Linked DNA regions of Homo sapiens. The protein of the gene in region 2 interacts with the protein of the main gene of each other region in a biochemical or structural test. Each region holds a gene or a part of one and is shown on either strand. Other genes may lie near its edges. The genes, in order: CCP110 and USP33.

The links.
Region 1: of the proteins of USP33 (region 2) and CCP110, one has a biochemical effect on the other in vitro, tested with the Homo sapiens proteins (one study listed by BioGRID).

Annotation. Positions count from the first base shown.
Region 1 is NC_000016.10:19,529,724-19,545,990, reverse strand, and holds part of CCP110 (centriolar coiled-coil protein of 110 kDa), read right to left. Parts: intron 13,576-16,267; coding exon 13,447-13,575; intron 10,052-13,446; coding exon 8,404-10,051; intron 5,335-8,403; coding exon 5,204-5,334; intron 4,105-5,203; coding exon 3,927-4,104; intron 3,371-3,926; coding exon 3,231-3,370; intron 3,114-3,230; coding exon 2,997-3,113; intron 1,195-2,996; coding exon 1,093-1,194; intron 898-1,092; coding exon 781-897; intron 175-780; coding exon 101-174; intron 1-100.
Region 2 is NC_000001.11:77,721,853-77,728,852, forward strand, and holds part of USP33 (ubiquitin carboxyl-terminal hydrolase 33), read right to left. Parts: intron 6,861-7,000; coding exon 6,443-6,860; intron 3,911-6,442; coding exon 3,770-3,910; intron 1,592-3,769; coding exon 1,479-1,591; intron 345-1,478; coding exon 172-344; intron 74-171; coding exon 1-73. UniProt on the Homo sapiens protein: Deubiquitinating enzyme involved in various processes such as centrosome duplication, cellular migration and beta-2 adrenergic receptor/ADRB2 recycling.

The DNA.
Region 1 (16,267 bases), on a different chromosome or scaffold from region 2:
AATTAACTCTTTATTTCTAAATTTAAATATGCAAATAGACCAACAGATGACTAAAATTAATTGGTTTGATAACTAACATGACATGATACAAAAAACTTACTTCATGTATTTCTTCCTATCAAGAGACTTCTGTGTTGCAGCTGAAAGAGCCACTCGTGGACTTTTCATTTTATCCTTTAATATACAAAAGTAACGTCAAACTCTACTGGAACCAATTAATACCACTATATTATAATGTATTATAATCCCACATTGCCTGGAAAAGCTTCTCTCTACTAACATTTTTAATTTAGTTAAATCATCTTGTTTTGTATTTTTGAAGCAGTCTAATTCTAAGAATTAAATAATTAGAATTATGTAAATTTTGCTTGCTTTTCCTTTGCCAATCACACTAAGATAACTGATTCAAATCACATACTCTGATATACTTCAAATTAACTTGGAGCCTGTTTTCTAACTCAGATTTCAAAAAAAGCAAAACCCACATTATAATTGAATTCAAGGAAATTCAATCAGGAGCAGCTGATAGATTGTATAAGCCATCTGAGCAAAACATTCAAAGCTTCAACTCTAAAATCCAATAAGAAAACAATATGTAATTCTTAAATGATGTAATTCTTTTAAATCTGTCTACAGATTTAAATGCTGCTAGTAATTCCAGGAATTACTTGTGCTTAAGAATTATCAGAAGAAGGGTGCTGAAGTCAACCAAAACTGACATTTAGTATCAATTACCCTAAACCCAGAAGAACTCTATTCATTAGAAATCATATAACATACCATTTGCCTGAGCATTTTCTCTTTGCGAACTTCTCGATCATGATGTAGAATAGACATTCTTTCAGCTGCATCCATTACAAAGAATATGTCATGAATACCGTACAAGGCAGCTCGCAACTAGGCACAAGAGAAGAAAATATTGTATACATTTAAAAGATGAGGTTAGAGTTCAGGAATACTATATACCATGTACACTTATTTATAGAAAAAGATTAAAATAGTTTTCATTGAAACCTATTTTCAGTGATTAAATAAAAAAGGAGAAATATAATATGTCCATGTCTTAAAAGCCTTCAGGATCCATGTATTTACCTGAGCTAACACTCTTTCCTGAAGTGAAGCATCTTGAGCTGAAACAATGCCTCTCTTTAATGGTGCTTCTGACTGAAAACTTCTTATGAATTCCATAGTATCCTGAAAAAAGAAATGCTCCTTCAAAAACATTTTTCTAGAAAGATTTGTGATCACTGGAGTTTGCTTTTTTCTTTTTCTCAGTCAATCCAAAATTACAGTCTTTCGTCAGTATCTGTGGGGGACTGGTTCCATGAATCCCTCAGATACCAAAATCCAAGGATGCTGGAGTCCCTTATATAAAATAGTTATCTGCATATAACCTAAGCACATCTCCCATATACTTTAAATCATCTCTAGATTAGTTAAAATACCTAATAAATGTACATGCTATGTAAATAGTTGTTATATTGTTTAGGAAATAATGACAAGGAAAAAAAATTTGTACATGTTCAGTACAGACACAACCATCATTTGTTTTTTCTGAATTATTTTTGATCCATGGTTCGTTGAATCCACAGATGTGGAACCCAGAGATAGAGGACCGACTGTACTAAGAACATAAATAAAACTATTACTTATCAGAAGTCAAACCACTCACTTTCAAGCAAGTCAAAAACACACAAACTGCTTCATTTACATGTTATTCATAATATTATCTGAGAAAGATTAACGATTATTGGGGGGACCAGCCCCCAATATTTCAACATAGGTTCTTTCTATTTTTCATAAGTGTCAGCCAGATGAGAAATAAAGAGAAAGAGTACAAAGAGAGGAATTTTACTGCTGGGCGTCCGAGGGGGACATCACATATTGGTAGGACCATGATGCCCACCTGAGCCTTAAAGCCAGCAAGTTTCATTAAGGATTTCAAAAGGGGAGGGGGTGCAAGAACAGGGAGTAGGTCACAAAGATCACATGCTTCAAAGGGCAAAAAGGAGAACAAAGATCACATGCTTCTGAGGAAACAGGACAAGGGCAAAATCAGAACTACTGATAAGGGTCTATGTTCAGCTGTGCACGTATTGTCTTGATAAACATCTTAAAAGGAAACAGGGTTTGAGAGCAGAGAACTGGTCCGACCACAAATTTACCAGGGTGGAATTTCCCAATCCTAGTAAGCCTGAGGGTACTGCAGGAGACCAGGGCATATTTTAGTCCTTATCTCAACCGCATAAGACAGATACTCCCAGAGTGGCCGTTTATATACCTCCCCCCAGGGATGCATTCCTTCCCCAGGGTATTAATTATTAATATTCCTTGCTAGGAAAAGAATTTAGCAATATCTTCCCTACTTGCACGTCCGTTTATAGGCTCTCTGCAAGACGAAAAATATGGCTCTATTTTGCCCGACCTCGCAGGCAGTCAGTTATGGTTGTCTTCCCTTGTTCCCTGAAAAACGCTGTTATTCTGTTCTTTTTCAAGTTGCACTGATTTCCTATTGTTCAAACACACATGTTTTGCAATCAATTTGTAGAGTTAACACAATAGTGGTCCTGAGGTGACCTACATCCTCAGCTTATGAAGATAACAGGATTAAGAGATTAAAGACAGGCATAAGAAATTATAAAAGTATTAATTTTGGGAACTGATAAATGTCCATATTAAAATGAAATCTTCACAATTTATGTTCAGCAATTGAAGTAAAGACAGGAGTAAGAAATTATAAAAGTGTTATTTGGGAACTGATATATGTCCATATTAAAATGAAATCTTCACAATTTATATTCCTTTGCTGCGGCTCCAGCTGGTCCCTCCATTCGGGGTCCCTGACTTCCCGCAACAAACAATCAGACTTCTAAAACTGCCTAGATTACAGTGACTAAAAAGCGTTTAAGTTCTGAACTAATCTGTTAGCTCAGCTGTCACAAGACTGATAGAAACTAAGACAGAAGTGAAATACAAACGATTTACAGGAATCTTACTTTTACAGTTTGTCGAAGTTGCTTCAGCTTATCTGTCTGCATAAGTCTACGAGTAAGAAATCCTTTTGCCACTGCAGTTATTTTGTTAAATTTTGCTTGTATTTCCAGACTAAAAACCTAGGAGAAAGAAGACAGACACAATGTTTATTGGTGTTCATTTATACAGTCTAAGATAATATAGCTCTTAAGAAAAGATAAATAGATAGATGGACATGTATCATTAAGTTTACCCACTTGAGACCATCTAGTTTTGGCTCTTCCAAAAGGCCTTGTTACTGAGAGTTTGGTCAAGCCACTAGTTGATGATCCCCAGAGGTAGAATGGTGCTTCGTTTGCAGAAACAAAGCTATATTGCATGGCAGAATTTGTGAAACCTAGAGAAACATACATATAGTATTATACTTGATGTCATATAATTAGAATACGAAGAACATCCCAATAAACACTTGTGACACTCATTAAGAATAACAACTGCCTCCAAAAATGACCTACCTGCCGACTTAAAATATTTATGGACTTTAAAGCTTACATACCAGGTGGATCTTTTCAACACAAACAGCATCTCAGGATAATTGAGATATGAAGATAAGCTATTTAAAGGGACTAGGGAATTAGAGGTAATTCAAGATCACTCAGGAGAGAGCAAACTGTTTTCACTTGAAGTATATCACCTGCTGCATGAATGATCAGACTGGGCTCTAAGCCAAATTTCCTGATCTTTTCCTGGCAAAGGTAATCTTTGTTCACAAACATCTGCTCACAAGTCTTTGATCTCCTATCATGTCATTTTTCACTGGTTACTAAGCAGCTGGCAAAGAGGGTTGGACATGGAATCATTTGAAAACAGGAGATATAATCTTATAGTGTGCCAAATAAATATCTTACCGTAGGATCACTTTCCCAAATGTAAAAGGATTTTTAAATATTTACCAGAACTATTTGAATTTGAAGTATGGAGTGAGTCCGCTTGAGACAGCATTGTTTCCAGCAAACTAGAGTCACTTATTTTTCTCCATTCTAATTCCACTGCATTGTTAATGTCCAACTCAGAGGCTTCCGCTGTCATTGCCTTCTTCTCTTTTAACATTTTCTCCTGCTCTTCTATTTCCTATACATGAACAGTTTATTGTAACATGCTAAACCTTTTAATTATGTCCCAAAATGATATCATTTTAGGCTTAGCCAAAAGTACATGTAATTATCAGCAATTATTATTTATTTCAAGTTTTTCTTCCTCAAATTATCCTTCCTTCCTTCTCCCTTCCCTTCCCTTCCCTCCCTCCCTCTTTTCTTTTCTTTCCTTCCTTCCTTTCTCTCTCTCTCTCTCTCTCTCTCTCTCTCTCTCCTCTCTCTCTCTTTCTTGTTTCAAGAAACAGAATCTCGCTCTGTCCCCCAGGCTGGAGTGCAGTGGCACGATCTCGGTTCACTGCAATCTCCACCTTGCGGGTTCAAGTGATTCTCCTGCCTCAGTTTCCCAAGTAGCTGGGACTACAGGTCCATACACCACCATTTTGTATTTTTTAGTAGAGATGGGATTTCACTATATGTTGGCCAGGCTGGTCTCAAACTCCTGACCTCAGGTGATCCATCCACCTCGGCCTCCCAAAGTGCTGGGATTACAGGCGTGAGCCACCACGCCCAGGCTATAATTTAATATGTGATAATGTATAGTTAAATTATTAATTATAATAATATTATAACAAGTGTCGTTCTTTTTTTTTTTCTTTTTATAGAGACAGGGTCTCCCTCTGTTGCCCAGGCTGGAGTGCAGTGGCTAGACAAAGGCGAAATCATAGCTCACTGCAGCCTTGAATTTCTGGGCTCAAGCAATCCTCCCACCTCAGCCTCCTGCATAGCTGGGACTACAGGCTCATGATACCACGCCCAGCATGAGTGTCATTTTTATGATACAACTCCTGCAGAATGTGTACTTTAGCACCTATTTATAAAATACCTTTTTAAAATATTAAGCTTTAAATCAAGGATTCAATAAAATATTCTCGATAAATTATGCAATTACTTTTAGATAAGGATCTAAATATCAAAATTCATATTTTGACAAAAAATACCATTCACGTATCAAAATGACTCCCTTACCTTAAGATATATGGAGGCAAAAATTACACGTATTCTATACATGACCAAAATTCATAGGTATCCTTGGCTAAATTTCACTTACCAGTTGTATCTCCCTCCACATTCCTCACCTTTTGCAGTCTTTCTTGTTCCCTTTCCTGCTCAGCTATGAGTAGTGATAATTGCTGGGCGTGCTGTTCTTCTAGTCTCTTCCGCATTTCTTCAAAAGCTAACATCTTGCTTTTTAGTAACTCCTCGCTTTCTGAAAAGAAACATGTTTCCTCAATTTAGAAAATTCACAAGTCTAATGTCTGATATTTTATACCATCAATTTAAATTATCCTTCTGACAAGAGAGTATTCCTGGATCTGACATAATACAATCAAGATATAGCTGGGTCTCTACTTCGAACCACACTCCTTTTATTTCATGCTACTCAATAAAGTAAGACCTGTATTGCATCACCTTTACCCACTCATTCAACAGATCCCATCCTGATCTGAAATGACAGACCCAGGACTATATATTCAGACAAGATTCTCCTGACTCTACTTAACTTTCAGATGTGGTCCTCAACTGCATCCTACCATCATTTGTTTTTTTGACACTTGTCCTCCAGGATCTCTGGTAGTGTAGCTTGTAGTTTTGCCTTGTTTTGATTTTCAAAGAAAGTGTTTCCTTGATGGTATAAAGCTTTCTCAGCTTGAGGTTTCAAAAAGGACTGGACGTTAAAATTCCAGATATTTAGTTACTAACTAAGAGAAAACATTATGACAATACAAGCTTCCTAAATAGAATGTGGTAAGACATGTTGAAATGTACAAATACCAAGTATGGGCCAGGTGTGGTGGCTCACGTCTGTAATCCCAGTACTTTGGGAGGCCAAGGCAGGTGGATCACTTGAGGTCAGGAGTTCGAGACCAGCATGACCAACATGGTGAAACCGAATCTCTACTGAAAAAATACAAGCGCATGCCTGTAATCTCAGCTACTTGGGAGGCTGAAGCAGGAGAATCGCTTGAACCTGGGAGGCGGAGGTTGCAGTGAGCTGAGATCGCACCATTGCACTCCAGCCTGGGCAACAAGAGTGAAACTCCATCTCAAAAAAAAAAAAAAGAAATTTCCACTCTGTTGGTCTTATGTACTTCTGATATTCACTGAGGCAGCCTCTTGCCTTGCTATGCTATCTACTTGGAGGATCCAAGTTGGCTCCCCAGGTAACAGTGGTTGTTTTTATTAGAGCTCTTATAAAGTTGCACAGGATGGGCCAGGGCTGGTGGCTCAAACCTGTAATCCCAGCACTTTGGGAGGCCAAGGAGGGCTGATCACCTGAGCCTAGGAGTTCGAGACCAGCCTGGCCAACATGGTGAAACCCTGTCTCCACAAAAAATATAACAGCTGGGCGTGGTGGCGCATGCCTGTAAATCTCAGCTACTTGGAAGGCTGAGGCAGGAGAATCGCTTGAACCCAGGCCTACAGTGAACTGAGATCGCACCACAGCAATCTAGCCTGGGTGACGGAGCAAGACCCTGTCTCAAAAAAAAAAAATTAAAAAAAAAAAAAGTTGCACAGGTTTTAAGCAGTCTGACCCAACCCTGTATTTCCCATAAGCCCTAAGAGCTTAACTTACTTGATTTGTATGTCTTCTATATCAGTAATAAAGAATTATCAACAATGACAACAAAGTAAGGGGTAATGAAGGAGAAAAACGTGCTTTAATAAATTGCTGTTAATGGATACAACAGAAAAAACTGAAATAATAATTTTTATTAATTAAGAACCTTTATTATTATTATTTTTTTTTTTTGAGATGGAATCTGGCTCTGTCACCCAGGCTGGAGTGCAATGGTGCAATCTCGGCTCACTGCAACCTCCGCCTCCTGGGTTCATCCAATTCTCCTGCCTCAGCCTCCCAAGTAGCTGGGATTAAAGATGTGCACCACTACGCCCAGCTAATTTTTGTATTTTTAGTAGAGACGGGGTTTCGCCATGTTTGTCAGTTTGGTCTCGAACTCCTGACCTCAAGTGATCCACCCACCTCGGCCTCCCAAAGTGCTGGGATTACAGGCGTAAGCAACCGCGCCGGCCTAAAGAACCGTTCTTGAACCACCTACTCAGAGCCTTATTTCTGATACTTTGTCTAATAATTTGATGTTAAAGTGTTTACTGAAGGACCAATTACACGAAGCTCATACTACAAATGAAAAAGCAAACTGAAATAAACATTAGAAACTATAGTCCAAAAGAAAGACCTCATAGCAATACAGTGAATTAAAACTGTAAGTGATGTTTCAGGCAAGACTGTTTGGGGCTGGGTGCGGTGGCTCATGCCTGTAATTCCAGCACTTTGGGAGGCTGAGGCGGGTGGATCGCTTGAGGCCAGGAGCTTGAGAGCAGCCTGGCCAACATGGCAAAACCACATCTCTACTAAAAATATAAAAATTAGCTGGGCCAGGTGGTAAGCACCTGTAATCCCAGCTACTCTGGAGGCTGAGGCACGAAAATCAATTGAACCCAGGAAGCAGAGGTTGCAGTGAGGTGAGAACCCGCCACTGCACTCCAGCCTGGCGACAGAGCAAGACTGTCTCAAAAAAAAAAAAAAAAAAAAAAAAAAAAGAACTGTTTCCTCCAATTATTAATATTCTCAATAATACCAAGTGGACTATGAAAGCTTCATCATTTAAATAAGAAGATCCATCCAGGCATGATGGCTCACGCCTGTAATCCCAGCTACTCAGGACGCTGAGGCATGAGAATTGCCTGAACCGGGAGGTGGAGGTTGCAGTTAGCCAAGGTTGTGCCACTGCACTCCAGCCTGGGCAACAGTGCCAGACTGTCTCAAAAAAGAAAATCCTGGCTGGGTGTCGTGGCTCACGCCTGTAATCCCACAGCTTTGGGAGGCTGAGACGGGAGGCTCACTCAAGCTCATGAGTTTGAGACCAGCTTGGGCAACATGCCAGAAACTCCATCTCTACAGTACAAAAAATACAAAAATTAGCCGGGCATGGTGGCATGAGCCTGTAGTCCCAGCTACTTGGGAGGATGAGGTGGGAGGATGGCTTGAGCCCAGGAGGCGGAGGTTGTAGTGAGCTGAAGTCATGCCACTTCACTCCAAACTGGGGTGATAGAGCCAGACCTTGTCTCAAGAAAATCTTTAAGAAAGCCTATCAAATGGCAATAAACTGTAGCTGACTAATATGCTTTCTAATAAGATAAATAAAATTAAGTGCCCATATGAATAAAGACCACTTTTTTCCCAAAAATGTCAATTAAGAGTATTAAAATAAAGGTATCTGCATAGAAGGTATCAAACGCTTCAAAGATTCCTTACCTTTGGAACTAGTTCCTAACATTTTATTCTTGTTAACGAAGCCAGATCCCTTAGGGTATCTTTTTTCTGGCAAATGTTGCCTTTCTTGTTCAGTTATTCCACTTGTTATGACATAAGGGCAGTTTTCTTTTTGCAAACCATCAATATCTAAATCAAGTCTCCGTTTAACTTTCTCAAAACTGTTATCCAAAAATTGTTCATTTCCACAGGACACCATAGGTGTGTCCATCTGCTGTCTCGTATTCTGGTTTTGCATCAATAAAGGAGAAGGGTTTTTTACATCATAAGACTTATTCAGTTCTGTTTGCAAACTGCAGTTTTTCTCTAACATACTGGCTGGCTTGAGTCCACTCACAGTTCCAAAGTTTGGACTTGCTATACACTGACTGCTGGCATATGGTTCATGCAGCTTTGGCATCGCAGCACAGGTACTGTTCATTATGTGTGCGCCTCTCTCATCGGATGTTAACTGACCTTCCACAGTAACAAGTCCATGAGTAACTTTATTTTCTAAATGATTTCCTGAAGATTGACATACCTGATTTGATTTACCTAAAACCACATCTTCTTTGACTTCAGATGTATTTTTGCCCACATAAACCTTGCTTGAACAAACTCCCGCTAAATCAGTTGGTAACTTTGGCATAATTTCGGGCACATTTGTGTTTTCATCAGTATCTTGAATAATTAAGTCCATTGCCTGTTCTTTTCCTTTAGGGCTTAATTCACAGGCATTTATTGGGTTATTTATAAGTATATGACACGCTGATGATGTCCTGGAACGTCTTCGGTGCATTTTAGGACTCATACTTGGCTCTGGACTAGGTAATTTGGCATATGAACCTGTAAGACTTTTGATAACATTATTTTCGGTAACAAAAGTGGGAATAACTTTAAAATCAGAATTAGACTCTAGAACAGTGGGATGGCCAGTTCGTATAGGTATGTCCACTTTCGAAAAGCTAGCTAAAACTGGCATACTCATGCTGCTTGCTTGAGTGGAAGCACCTTGGAGAAGAACATTTGATTTATTAAGGCTTGGTTTGTCAGGAATAACTGAGACACAGTGTTTGCCTGTCAACTGGCCTTTCTCTTTTACACAGTCAGCCACTTCAACAGCATCATGTTCTTTGTCTAAATGACTCTCATTAACAATTCTGTTGATACTACCTCTCAGACTGCGTCTAGATTGTTCTCTTTCTATATATTCCTTTGACTTTTTCATCAGATTCTGAAGACTCATTACATAGGGATCTGGGATGACTTCTGCCAAAAGTGGTAGATCCTGTTGTTCATTTACTGAGAAGGGACCATCAGAAATAAGAGTTTCTTGTGGGGTTGCTGAAGAGGTCTTTGGAAAAGCTTCATTTTCTACATGACTAATATTGGAACTATCACATTGCTTCGGAGAATTAAATCCTTCTGAATCTCTAGCTAAGTCTATTCCATCAGTTTTACATTGGTCCTCATTATCCAATGGCAAAATCCCAGCTATCTTATCAAGCTTTGCTGCAGTAGAGTGTTCCGTATGGCTTGGAAAGCTATTTGGAAATGTAGCAGGAACATTCAAGTTTCTGACTTCTGAATTAGAGTAAACTGTTTCCATCTCCCACTGATCAAAATCACTGGCATTAGGTGCTTTTCTAACCTGAAACAGGAAATTTAAAAATTAATATTTCCTCATTGCACAAAAAGTCTCTGATTTCACTGTTTTCTAAAATAAAATTGAAATTGAAAATTCAGAATTCTGACATTTCAAAACATAAAGAAAAACTAAGATGACAGGTTTCTACGGTATCCTGTATCACAGGGGGCTCAAATTATTATTGAAAAGATGCCTACTGGTCATCCTGCCTAAGTTATTAAAAGAGTTATAAAAGAGTTATAAAAAGAAACATCTAATCTGATACAAATATGAACATATATATGTGTATACACACACACATATATTCATATATCCATGTGCAATTTAATCTTAGAATACAAGCACTTAAATTTCTTCTAGTCATATGTTATTAACATTACCAACTGTTCCTCCTAGGATAGCTATCATCCAAGGATAATAATATATGCAATAAACAGCAAGTAATGAAATGTCTTACGTAAACGATTCCCTCTCTAACAAAGACTAACTTGTCCAGGACATTGATTAAGCAAAAATGATTCAGTAATAAGACTCCTGCACCTACATGCTTACTCCAAAGTTTAACTAAACTTTGTCTCAAAAATGAATGAATGAATGAATGAATGAATGTAAAAATAGATATTTTGTATCTAAATAATCCAACTTTGCAAAAGAATAAAAAGAGAACTAGGATAGTTTCTAAAGGTAATTATACATCCGTATATTAAACTGGCAAAAATCATTGTATTATCATATGAATACAGACATCAAAAGCCTGACTACTGGCGGGGCATGGTGGCTCACGCCTGTAATCCCAGCACTTTGGGAGGCCGAGGCGGGCGGATCATGAGGTCAGGAGATCAAGATCATCCTGGCTAACACAGTGAAACTCCATCTCTACTAAAAATACAAAAAATTAGCTGGGCTTGGTGGTGGGCACCTGTAGTCCCAGCTACTCAGGAGGCTGAAGCAAGAGAATGGCATGAATCTGGGAGGCGGAGCTTGCAGTGAGCCAAGATCACGTCACTGCACTCCGGCCTGGGCGACAGAGCGCGACTCCATCTCAGAAAAAAAAAAAAAAAAAAAAAAAAGTCTGAATATTACAATATTTTTTGGTTGTTTTGAATGTGCTTGTTTTTTTCTAGACCACATGGCTCTCCTATTTTACGTTACAAATCCCAAGACAGGTAATGGTTTCCAGGTACTATGCAATACACAGTACAATAAGACATACTTAGTCACAACCTCAGAACCAAAATAAAACAAAAAAGATGCAAAAAGGTTTCCAGGTACTATGCAATCAACAGTACAAGAGTACAAGACATACTTAGTCACAGCCTCAGGACCAAAATAAAACAAAAAGGATGCATATTTATGAAATCCATGAACATGTTCACAGGTTTAAGTAAAACAGATGATTTCCTTACGTAAAATATTTCACATTTGTGATATTCGGAAGCTATGTTGTTTATACGTCACTAAAATGAGCCTTTAGTTAGACAAGTTAAATAACAACAAGAAAAAAATCTATCATAGAATCTTAGGTTTTACAGGTGAAGCAGAAATCTAATTGTATTATATAAAATTTTCCTATCTGAATAATTAATTCATTACAGTTCAACATTATACATGCTCTTTTAACAATTTTATTAGTAGTATATTTTATCTTCCCTCAATGGACCAAGAATGATATGCCATTTTCATTTCAATCACAGGAAATACGTAGTAAGTAAAAAACCTACCTCTTATTGTTAAATTAGTGCTACTCAATACATTTTTTAAACTTAATATGGACAGTAATTATAATCTGCAAAATGAAATCTACTACCCACACACTATATACTACTGTGAAAGGGAAATAATATCTCAGGACCCCAAACTCAACTATGTCACATGAGAGTCACTATGACTCTCATTAACAATTCTCTTAATACTACCTCTCAGCCTGCGTCTAGATTGTTCTCTTTCTATATATTCCTTTGACTTTTTCATCAGATTCTGAAGACTCATTACATAGGGATTTCGAGTAACTGAAATGGAAAATCACATGTCAAAGGAAAAAGTAAAGCTTAGGAACTGAGTCACACAAAAACTGCCTTCCTTTTATTCCTAAACAGATAGCTGCAAAATAGAAGGCCACCTATCTACCCAGGTAGACTCTCTTGCAAATTGCTCACAAGGAAATTCCTCGTAGGCCCCAAAATCTTTACACCAACCCAGAGTTCTGCTGAATTTCACTCTGACAAGATACGGACAAAGACCAAAGATGACTAGAAATCATCCCTTTGGAGACAAATGTATATTTGACTTCTTCCTCTACTCTGCTTACTTTATCCTATGTAAAATGCAGATTTATTGAGCTTGAGATGAATGCATAACTGACTGTTCCTCTACCCCCACCTTTCTCATGCGACTTGTGGATTCAGTGAGTGCTAATCAAAGCCTCACAAAAATGTGATCGCTTATCTCATTACCTACCCTCCTTTTTTTTTCTTTCCTCTTTCCCCTCCTGCTGTTCTCTCCCCTTTATACACTGAAGTCCTCAAAACCTCTTCTGGAAAAGCATAAGCCACAGATTCTACTGTAACTTTTGTCTCTTTTTCCTTGGCACATCCTCAACCTTGGCAAAACAAACCTCTAAATCGATTGAGACTTGCCTCAGTCATTTTCTTCAGTTTACACTACCAACAGAGAAATGAACCCTTAAGGTTCATTATACACGTGTCATCGATACGAATTAAACAGACAAACCACAAACTCCTAAGATTATGAAAAAACAAAAAGATGTTACCAGCAGAACACTGCTATATGTTGTAGAAATTATTCGTTCAATCTAATTCATTTGTTTTTCTTTTTAGTACAAAATGATCCACATGTCAGAACAAATTGTTTATACAAATCTAAAAATAACTGCACAAGGTGTAGATGTGTTGTTTAAATAGTTTTTAGACATAGGATGCATCTAAACAATTCAATGTTATCTAAACTGCATTTTGTGTATCTAAGAGTTTTCACCAAAAAAAAATTGGAGGCAGTTATTTACTTAAGCAAAGAATGAGAATAAGGTCATTTAGTCAATAGTCTAATTAGTTTGGGGTAAACAATAATACCCAATTCTGTCATTTTGTCACTGAGAATTCAATGTTTTTAGAGTCATAAGATGCAAACAATAAGCAATTATATTCAGTGTATGGTTCTATTGTGTAAATATCCTCTGATTCAAGTACTGGGCATTACTAACAAGCAAGTACATTCTCTTTGGAGTAACTGAAATGGAAAATCACAAATTATGAAGCTTCTCAAACGTAACAGTAAAGTACATTAGTAATTAGTTAAGTGCAAATATATTTCAGAAAAATTATCATCAACGCTTATCTTATGATTTCTTTATTATAACTGAAACAGCTAAAATCACACACCTGAACATTGTCAAGAATCTCCTGGACACGAGTCAGTAAAGCTTTCTTCCTGTTAACCTGCTTTCTTGCTTCTACATCAAGTGCTTTCTGCTTTTCTTGTTGCATTTCCTTTCTTTTCTCAATGTTAAGCTGCAAAACATCATAAAAATGTAATTATTTCCCACGATAAAAATATCATAAAATCGGGAAGTTGTGAATCAGAAAGATTAAAAACATGTGCAACAGGCAAAACTAATGTATAGTGAAAGAAATCAGAACAATGGTCTGGGTACTGAGTGGGATGGGGCATTAGAGATCTTTCCATGGTGAAGAAAATCCTGTGTGGGTGTGAGTTATACATGTGTATGCCATATATCAAAACTCATGGAACTTTAACACTTAAGATTTGTGCATTTTGCTATGTGTAAATTATTTTCAGTTAAAAGGTTAAAAAGAAAAAAGTTTGTTCACTAATCAAATGTTCTAAAATGACAGAAATAAAATTAAGGCCCTTTTGGCCACTGCTGAGTTTTTTATTACTTCACTTGAATATTGACTTGAATATTACTTCACATTCAGTATCCTTTTTTTTTTTTTTTTGAGATGGAGTCTTGCTCTGTCACCTAGGCTGGAGTGCAGTGGTGCGATCTCGGCTCACTGCAACCTCCGCCTCCTGGGTTCAAGCGATTCTCCTGCCTCAGCCTCCGGAGTAGATGGGCTTACAGGCGCGTGCCACCACGCCCAGCTAATTTTTGTATTTTTAGTAGAGATGGGGTTTCACCATGTTGGTCAGGCTGGTCTCGAACTCCTGACTTTGTGATCTGCCCACCTCGGCCTCCCAAAGTGCTGGGATTACAGGCGCGAGCCACCGCGCCTGGCCCATCTTCAGTATCTTATTTCACTGGATCAACTGGATTCTACAACTTTTAATTTTCTAACCAGTGCACAATTTAACTCTTTGCTGCCTCAAAAAATGTCCAAAGGTTTAATGATAAAATAAACAGATAATATATTATTTGCCTACAAAAGCAGAATACATCTTTTCTTTCACCTCACTCTACCTTCTGATAAAAATATAATGTACCTAAAAAATGGAAGGCTTCTAAGCATTGTATCTCTTTATAATGGATTTCAATCTTAATTATTAAGTCCTGGGAAATTAAATCACTGTTAACAGTCAAGACTTATCGTAGACTTACACAAATAGAAAATATATCATTAAAAAATTATTTCAAAAGTTGCAATATTCACCTATCAAATACAACATAAAAGTGTGGATTAGGTCCATAAACATCACATTTTGCTTATAAATAAATAACAGACGGAGTCATAGACCCTACACAACAAGCCTCAGACATTTTGGTCCACATTAAATCAAGCAATGTGTTATCAAATAGCTGATAAATATGTTGTTTTAAAACTTTTTCCTAATTGCATGGTACCAAAGAATGATTATACAATTTACTTGCTAATCAAAAGGAGAAAATGTGTACTTTAAAGAGCCATCTGGCAGTCACTACTGTAAGCAAGTGTTCAAACTAAACATCACTAATAGAGGGCAACTAAACATTATGTAACTTCTGATTTAATTTAGTATGAAGTGCAGGGCATCATCTCCAAAGAATTCCTTTTTTTTTTGAGATGGAGTCTCAGGTTGGAGTACAGTGGTGCGATCCCGATCCCTCCTGGGTTCAAGCGATTCTCCTGCCTCGGCCTAACGCACAGCTGGGATTACAGGCACCCACCATCATGCCTAGCTAATTTTTATATTTTTAGTAGACAAGGGGTTTCGCCATGTTGGCCAGGCTGGTCTCGAACTCCTGACCTCAAGTGATACACCCATCTCGGGCTCCCAAAGTGCTGGGATTACATTTTTTTTTTTTGAGAGAGGGTCTCACTCTGTTGCCCAGGCTGTTGTGCAGTGGCTCGATCTCGGCTCACTACCTTTGCCTACTGGGTTCAGTGGATCTTGGCTCACTGCAACCTTCGCCTCCTGGGTTCAAGGGATCCTCCTGCCTCAGCCTCCCACATAGCTGGGATTACAGGCATCCACCACCACGCCCAGCTAATTTTTGTATTTTTAGTAGAGACGGGGTTTCGTCATGTTGGCCAGGCTGGTCTCAGCCTCCCAAAGTGCTGGGATTACAGGCATGAGCCACCCCGCCCAGCCCTATCTTCAAAGAATTCCAAAAATCTTTAACCTGTTTATCAAACTTCACTTCCAGTTCATAGGAACTACAGGGACTAGAGAAACAAGTTAAATAACACTATTAGGAAACAATGGGACAAATCCAAGATCTAAGGAATTCTACAAGACAATAGCTCTGGTCTCTTTAAAAATTCAGTATCATAGTTTTGTTATTTTTTTAAAGACAGTATCTCACTCTGTCACCCAGGTTGGAGTGCAGTGGCATGATCAGGGTTCACCGCAGCCTCAGCCTCCCGGGCTCAGGTGATCCTCCCACCTCAGCCTCTAGAGCAGCTGAGACTCCTGGTGCGCGCCACCACACCCAGCTCTTTTTTGTATTTTTTGTAGGGATGAGATTTCACCACGTTGCCCTGACTGGTCTCAAACTCTGGGGATCAAGCAATGCAATCCACCCACCTCAGCCTCCCAAAGTGCTGGGATTATAGGCGTGAGGCACCATGCTCAACCAATAAAAAAAACTGTTTTTAAGACGTACAGTAGCTATTTTAGATTAAAATAAAGAAACATAACAAGCAAATACTAATTGTGAACTTTGGATCCAGATTGGGGGAATAAAGTTATAAAAGGCATTTTGAGCACAAATGGAAAAATTTAAATATGAACAGAATTATTAGATATTATTAAAAATTATTA
Region 2 (7,000 bases):
GAAGGCAGCAAGACAATCTTGCAAGGTTACTACTGGACCCCAAAACCAGCTAGGGACACATGAGACAACAAACCTGAAACATCATTGATAGAAAAAAAAGGAAGTGTTCTGCCAGTACAGCAGAAACAGCAGGTTTAACAATCATGTAATACAAAGAAAATAAATACATACCTCTTCACATATTCCATGAAAAAAGCTATCCACCCTTGTGGAGCATATGCTTCGCCACATGATCCTGCTTTGACTATAGAAGTTGGATGACTTGATGAATGCAGCTTAGCAAGGTCTTCCTTGCCAGGAATTGGCAAGGACAGATCTTGAAAGGTCTCGAGGGTTACAGACACCTAAAATTGTTTTGTGTTTTAAAAATGGGATGAACATAATGCAGTAAAACATTTCCAAGGTTAGATTTTAGACTCTAAAGATCAAAGCATGTTTAAATAAGCAAAAAAAACAAAAAACAAAAAAAAACACGCAAATTGAACTGCTTTCATAGTCATAATAGCAAAAAAAAAAACAAAAACAAAAAACAAAACACACTTGCTCTGTACCAGGTATCTTCACGTAAGTCCTGTGCAGTAGTATTAGCATCCCCATTACAATCACAGACACTGCAGCATTAAACACCCCAAATCCAGCCACTGCATCTTGAGGTCCAAACTCTTAAGCACTATTGTATTTATTTTTGAAAATTGACCTTTGATGGTAGTTTTAAAATATTTTTTTAAAAGGGTGAGACAAAATCTGGCATCTAATTTTAAATAGCTAAAAACATGCCTGATAATTCCACTTAAATATTTAGTACCAAAATAACCTACATTAAAACGACCCGATTGAAAGTTCTTAGATTTGACTTGAGATTCTAACACAATAATTGAAATCTTCTTTTTGTTTTTGAGATGTTATTTCATATTCATCATTGCACTAAAGTAAAACTGTACTTAAGAAAAGCTCAAAGAAACTTTGAAGAAGTGTTATTAAAAAATTCATGATGATTTTAATGTATGCTTTGTTATTGTCTATGAATTTGATACTACCTTTAGTATCTGAGTCCCATCCTAAACATGGAAAAATATTTACAAACCATATATGACCAAATGTAAGAGATACATTCACAGCTTTGTACCTGTGAATATCAACAGATTCCCAGTATACAAATTTCATCAGCCTGGGAGAATATGCAGGTGTTACCAATTCTTGTTGCTGAGCAACTTCTCACCTTTATATGTAACCAAAATAGATGACGAAGGATAATATGTGCCTGTCCAATGATGGGTCACCATCCTTTAAACAGGATGCTGCTACTTCCAAAAAAAATTCTACACCTAGAATCAAATTTGTGTTGATGTAAACACAATAAATGCATGTATGCTCATCAATAGCAAAGAGAAGGAATTAAACTTTTCACATCATCTTGTCACATTTTTAAAAATCATTTGACACGAATTTTCTGTGTATTCTAATACCCTCATACTCACCCTGTCACAAGTCAGACACTGCACTGAACTAATGATTGTTCCATCAAATATGTCTGAAATAACACTTCTGTATTTCTTGTGCTGTTTTTTTCTCTTTGGAGATGCAGACTGAGCTAGGATTGAAAAACATTAAAAAAAAATCAAAGCAGCTCCTTTAACATTTTTCTCTGGAATCTTTTTTTGTCTTGTCAATCTTACTTGTATATGATCTCTAGAATCCTTAAACTGTAAAAATTACTGTGTTGAAAATTTTCAAAATACTCTTCAAAAGAGCATAAGTATTAAAAAAATAAAAGAAACTAAGCAGACAAGGCTTAAGATATTTGTTGTTTTTTTTTGTTTTTTTGTTTTGAGGTGGAGTCTCGCACTGTTGCCCACACTGGAGTGCAGTGGTGCGATCTCGGCTCACTGCCAAGTTCTGCCTCCCGGGTTCATGCCATTCTCCTACCTTAGCCTCCCAAGTAGCTGGGACTACAGGCGCCCACCACCACGCCCAGCTATTTTTTTGTATTTTTAGTAGAGACAGGGTTTCACCATGTTAGCCAGGATAGTCTCGATCTCCTGACCTCATGATCCACCCACTTCAGCCTCCCAAAGTACTGAGATTACAGGCGTGAGCCACCGCACCCAGCCTGTTTTTTTTTTTAAAGTATAAATGATCCTTGGCCACCATAAATGTACATATGAGAAAATGAACAAAATTCTAAATTAGCACAAAACCACAAATGCTTCATCACTGGGATGTTTACTTAAATGTTTTACAAGTCAAAAGAAGAGGGGAAGAGGTTAGAAAGTGAGGGAAAGATGATGAAAGTCATCATCAAGCTAAAGATGAAATAGAAGGGGTTCGGTCTCCCTATCCTGACTTGAGAGCAATTCTGTTTTCACTTATTTGTTTTTGTCTCCAGGTAAGGCTTTATTTGAAGAAAAGATTCTATTATTTAAAGTTTTTAAGAGTTCTTTATATATTTCTGGATACATGTCCTTTGCTAGCTATATGATTTATAAATACATCCAACCTTATCTTTCCATTCTCTGAATGTCCTTTGTCAACAAAAATCTTTAATTTTTTTCTTTAATGGATCATGCTTTTAATGTCTTTAAGAACTCTTTGTCTAACCCAAGGCCATGAAGACTTTCTCCTATGTTTTCTTCTAAGAAAACATAATACTGGAACTCCCATATATACCTGGAAGGAATACTAAATGGTAGACACTCTGGTAAAAAGTCTGGCAGTTTAATACAACTATAAGCATTAAACAAACATAAAACCCAGTAACCCCACTTCTAGGTATTTGTCCTAGACAAATGAAAAAATGTTCTTACAAAAACCTATACATAAATTTTAGAGCAACATTATTCATAATTGCCAAAAATTGGAAACAATTCAAAAGTCCACCAGTAGGTAAATAAACAGTGGTATACCCATAAAAAATGAGATATTAGGCCGGGCATGGTGGCTCATGCCTGTAATTCTAACACTTTGGGAGGCAGAGGTGGGGAGATCACAAGGTCAGGAGTTCGAGACCAGCATGGCCCATCTCTACTAAAAATACAAAAAATTAGCCAGGCATGGTGGCGTGCACCTGTAGTCCCAGCTACTCGGGAGGCTGAGGCAGGAGAACTGCTTGAACCTGGCAGGCAGAGGTTGCAGTGGGCCAAGATTGCACCACTGTACTCCAGCCTGGGCGACAGTGAGACTCCATCTCAAAACAAAACAAAAAAAAAGAAACATTACTTGGTAGTAAAAGGAACAAACTATTCAGACACGCAGTAACATATCTGAATTTCAAATGCATTATCCTGAGAGGCAAACCTGTTTCAAAAGACTACATATGAAAAGATTTAAAAAAATCAAAAGACTACATACTATATGATTTCATTTATATGACATTCTAGGAAAAGGCAAAACAATAAGAAAAGAGGATCAAGGGTGCCAGAACATAGGAATAGAGAAATGATCTGATTACAAAGTAGTACTATGCAGGAATTCTTTGGGGTGTTAGAGCTGTTCTGTATTCTGTTTGTGGTGGTGGTAACAAGAATCTATGCTGCAAGTGTTAAAATTCATAAAGCTCTATACAAGAAAAAGTGAATTCAACTGTATGTAAAATTTTAAAAGCAGAGTACCAACACACAAAATTTTTAATCATGTCTATGTAAAATTATGCTATCAATTTTAAAAGATCAAATCATATTTCATAATTAACACTTTAAATTATCAAGTACCAAAACCATCATTTTAAACTAAGACCCAAAGCAAAAGAGACTGAATAAGAGAAACGTTTTACCTTTTTTGTGTGGTGGTGCCAATCCTGGCCACAAATTGCCTGATTTAGGAGGGCTTGCCGATAAACGTGGATTAACACCTTCATTTGATGGAAGGATCTGTGGTGTAGACAGGTCATTCGAATGGACATCAGTGATATATTCTGTAAGATTTAAAATTTGCATTATTACCTTAAATAGTAAAATTATTCTAACTGTCCAATAATGTTAAAGGTTTCTTAATTTGATATTTTGAACACAATCATATTAACAAATGTCAAGTTAAATACTTAACAAAGTGCTTACTAAGCAAAATAACAGTAATCTTCTACCCAGAAATCCAACTAATTTTTGTTTACTTGTTTTTTTGAGACAGAGTCTCCCTCTGTCCCCCAGGCTGCAGTGCAGAGGTGCGATCTCAGCTCACTGCAACCTCCGCATCCTGGATTCAAGCGATTCTTCTGCCTCAGCCTCCCAAGTAGCTGAGATTACAGGCATGTGCCACCAGGCCCACCTCATTTTTGTATTTTTAGTAGAGATGGGGTTTCACCATTTTGGCCAGGCTGGTCTCAAAGTCCTGGCCTCAAGTGATCCACCCACTTTGGCCTCCCAAAGTGTTGGGATTATAGGCATGAACCACCGTGCCCAATCCCAACTAATGTTTATAACACACGACTATTACAGGCAGTTTAGGAAGTGAGCAGTGGAAATACAAAGCCAAAGAGGATCTTGTTTGTCCAAATATAGCATTAAAAAAAAAAAAAGAGGCTAGGCTGGGTGGCTAACGCCTACAATCCCAACACTGGGAGGCCAAGGTGGGAAGACTGCTTGAGCCCAGGAGTTCAAGACCAACTGCGCAACATCATGAGACCCCCATCTCTACAAAAAAATCTAAAAATTAGCTGGGCATGGTGGTGTACACCTGTAGTGCTGGCTACTCAAGAGGCTGAGGTGGGAGGATCACTTGAGCCCAGGAGGTTGAGGCTGTGGTGAGATGTGATCATGCCACTGCACTCCAGCCTGGGTGACAGAATGAGACCCTGTTTCAGGAAAAAAAAAAAAAAAGATATTCAGGACAGGTTTTTAGAAGTTCTAAAACCATGTGAAAGAAAAATCGATTATTCTCCCAAACTAACATAATAATCAAAATCAAGAAATGTAGGTATAAAGTAATCATAAGTTATTTTATCTTACTATAATAAAAAATACACCACTTCATCAGGAAAGAATCTTTTTTTAGAATTAAATTATAAGATGAATCAAGAAAATATAAGAGCTACCTTGATTGTTTGCTTTGGATTCCTAGTGCCTAACATATTCCAGGGCAAGGGAATGTGCTCAGTAACTATTTGAGTGAAGAAAAGAGAATTGTTCGTAAGAGATCTGGAAAGGGGATGTACTCAGAAATTTTTCCAGATAATGCAAAATCATTTTTCACACAGGCATTTCTCAATATTTCAATCATGACTAAATCAGACTGCATAATATTGGGAGTGAAAAAACAACTCACTCTAGGACTTTCTGAAGGGAATAAAGTTAATGAGATTTAGATGGGGAGTTGGCAATTTTTTCCTCTAACGGACCAGAGATGAAGTGTTTTAGGTTTGTGTGCCTTACAGACTTCGCCAGATTTTTTTCATCAAGCCCTTAAAACACCTAAAAGCTCAGACTCCTGATTTAGGTCATCCCCTTGTTACTATGTGTAAGAACAAACCTGTTACAGAGCAATCAAAGATGAGTATGTCCCTAATCAGGCTTAACTGGGCTTTTGACAAGAAAAGCCTGGACAGCAGTCAAAGCTAAGTCTTTCAATACTGATACCTGACATATTTATTCACTAACAACTTCTACACAAGATCAGTATAATTAAGGAGCCTAACACTCCTAGTCTTCCCGATTAGAAAGCATCTGTGCACTTTACCCAAGTGAACCACAAGTCTTCCTATAGTTAATAATATTTTCAAGAAGAAATTTTGGATTCATTCAAATACCTAAATAAATTGCTTAGTTACTCTCACTCTTCAGTAATTACAGAAAATAAACTTTTTTACATTACATGTCTGCCACTTATTTTAAGATCACATAATTTGAACCTCTAATGGCCCAATTTTGTGTGCTTTGGAAAACTACATACCACATTTTAAGCCAAGATAAGTTAACTCTTGAAGAGATAAATTACAAAGCAATTCAACTTTCATTTGGCCACATGCTCTTTCTCAAAGGAACACTGACTAGTATCATGGCATAATCTATCACAGCAGGGCTCACTATAGTTAATTCAACTTCTACACTAAAACACATCTGATGTGACTCCAATGACAACAATCTAAATCTACTAGTGTATATAATTAGAAAATTGCAATTTGGGTTATTTGCTTTTTTCCAGGATCGCAACATAATTTGCTTAAAATAAAAGAGAAAATTCTGGGGAGCCCAATTTTTTAGATTACTGCATGACTACACAAAAGACATCTGATGAAATGTTTACTTCAAAAGGAGGATTAATTTCTTATATAATTAAATGACCCAAAAAATTCCTTTTATCCTCGGGTTCTATAATTTTATGACTAATACTCACATGCAAATACTGCTAAACTATAATTCTAATTAGAAATACCCAAAGTAACAATTATTTAAACACCCATGTCTACAAATGAAATACTATCATTTTCATGAACAAACTACTAAATTGTCACCTGAAGCTCTGCTGTGTATTTGCACTTTGACAGTTTCCTGGTTGTTTAAGTCGACTGTTTCAGATATAGAGTCTCTATCTTTATCAAATTCGCCTTCAGAATTTACTTTATTAATCTTATTGCACATCTTCTCTTTTTGCCAATCCTTTGACATTTCTGAATTGTTTTCATCATCCTGAATTAACATTGTTGTTTCATTATTATCTTCAGAAAAGCATCTAGAGCCATTTTCATTTTCTGCTCTATCACTGTTGCTACAAGATTCACAAGACTGAAAATCTACATCCGACTGGCTCTTGTCTTCTTCCATTGTCTCCTCAGTGGTTATGGTTTGCGGATCTTCTTCTACTTCCATGACTTGCTCTTTCAATTCTTCATGAAGCAAATCCATTAAACATCGAAGGAATTCTTGAGCATCCTAATATATCAGCAACATAATGTTAACCACTTCATTACATGTGTATATAGAAACGTAAGGGAAAATATACAAAATGTCATTACAAACTTATATATGAAGGTACAGCACTATATTGAGCAAATACCAGTTTGGAGAGCATA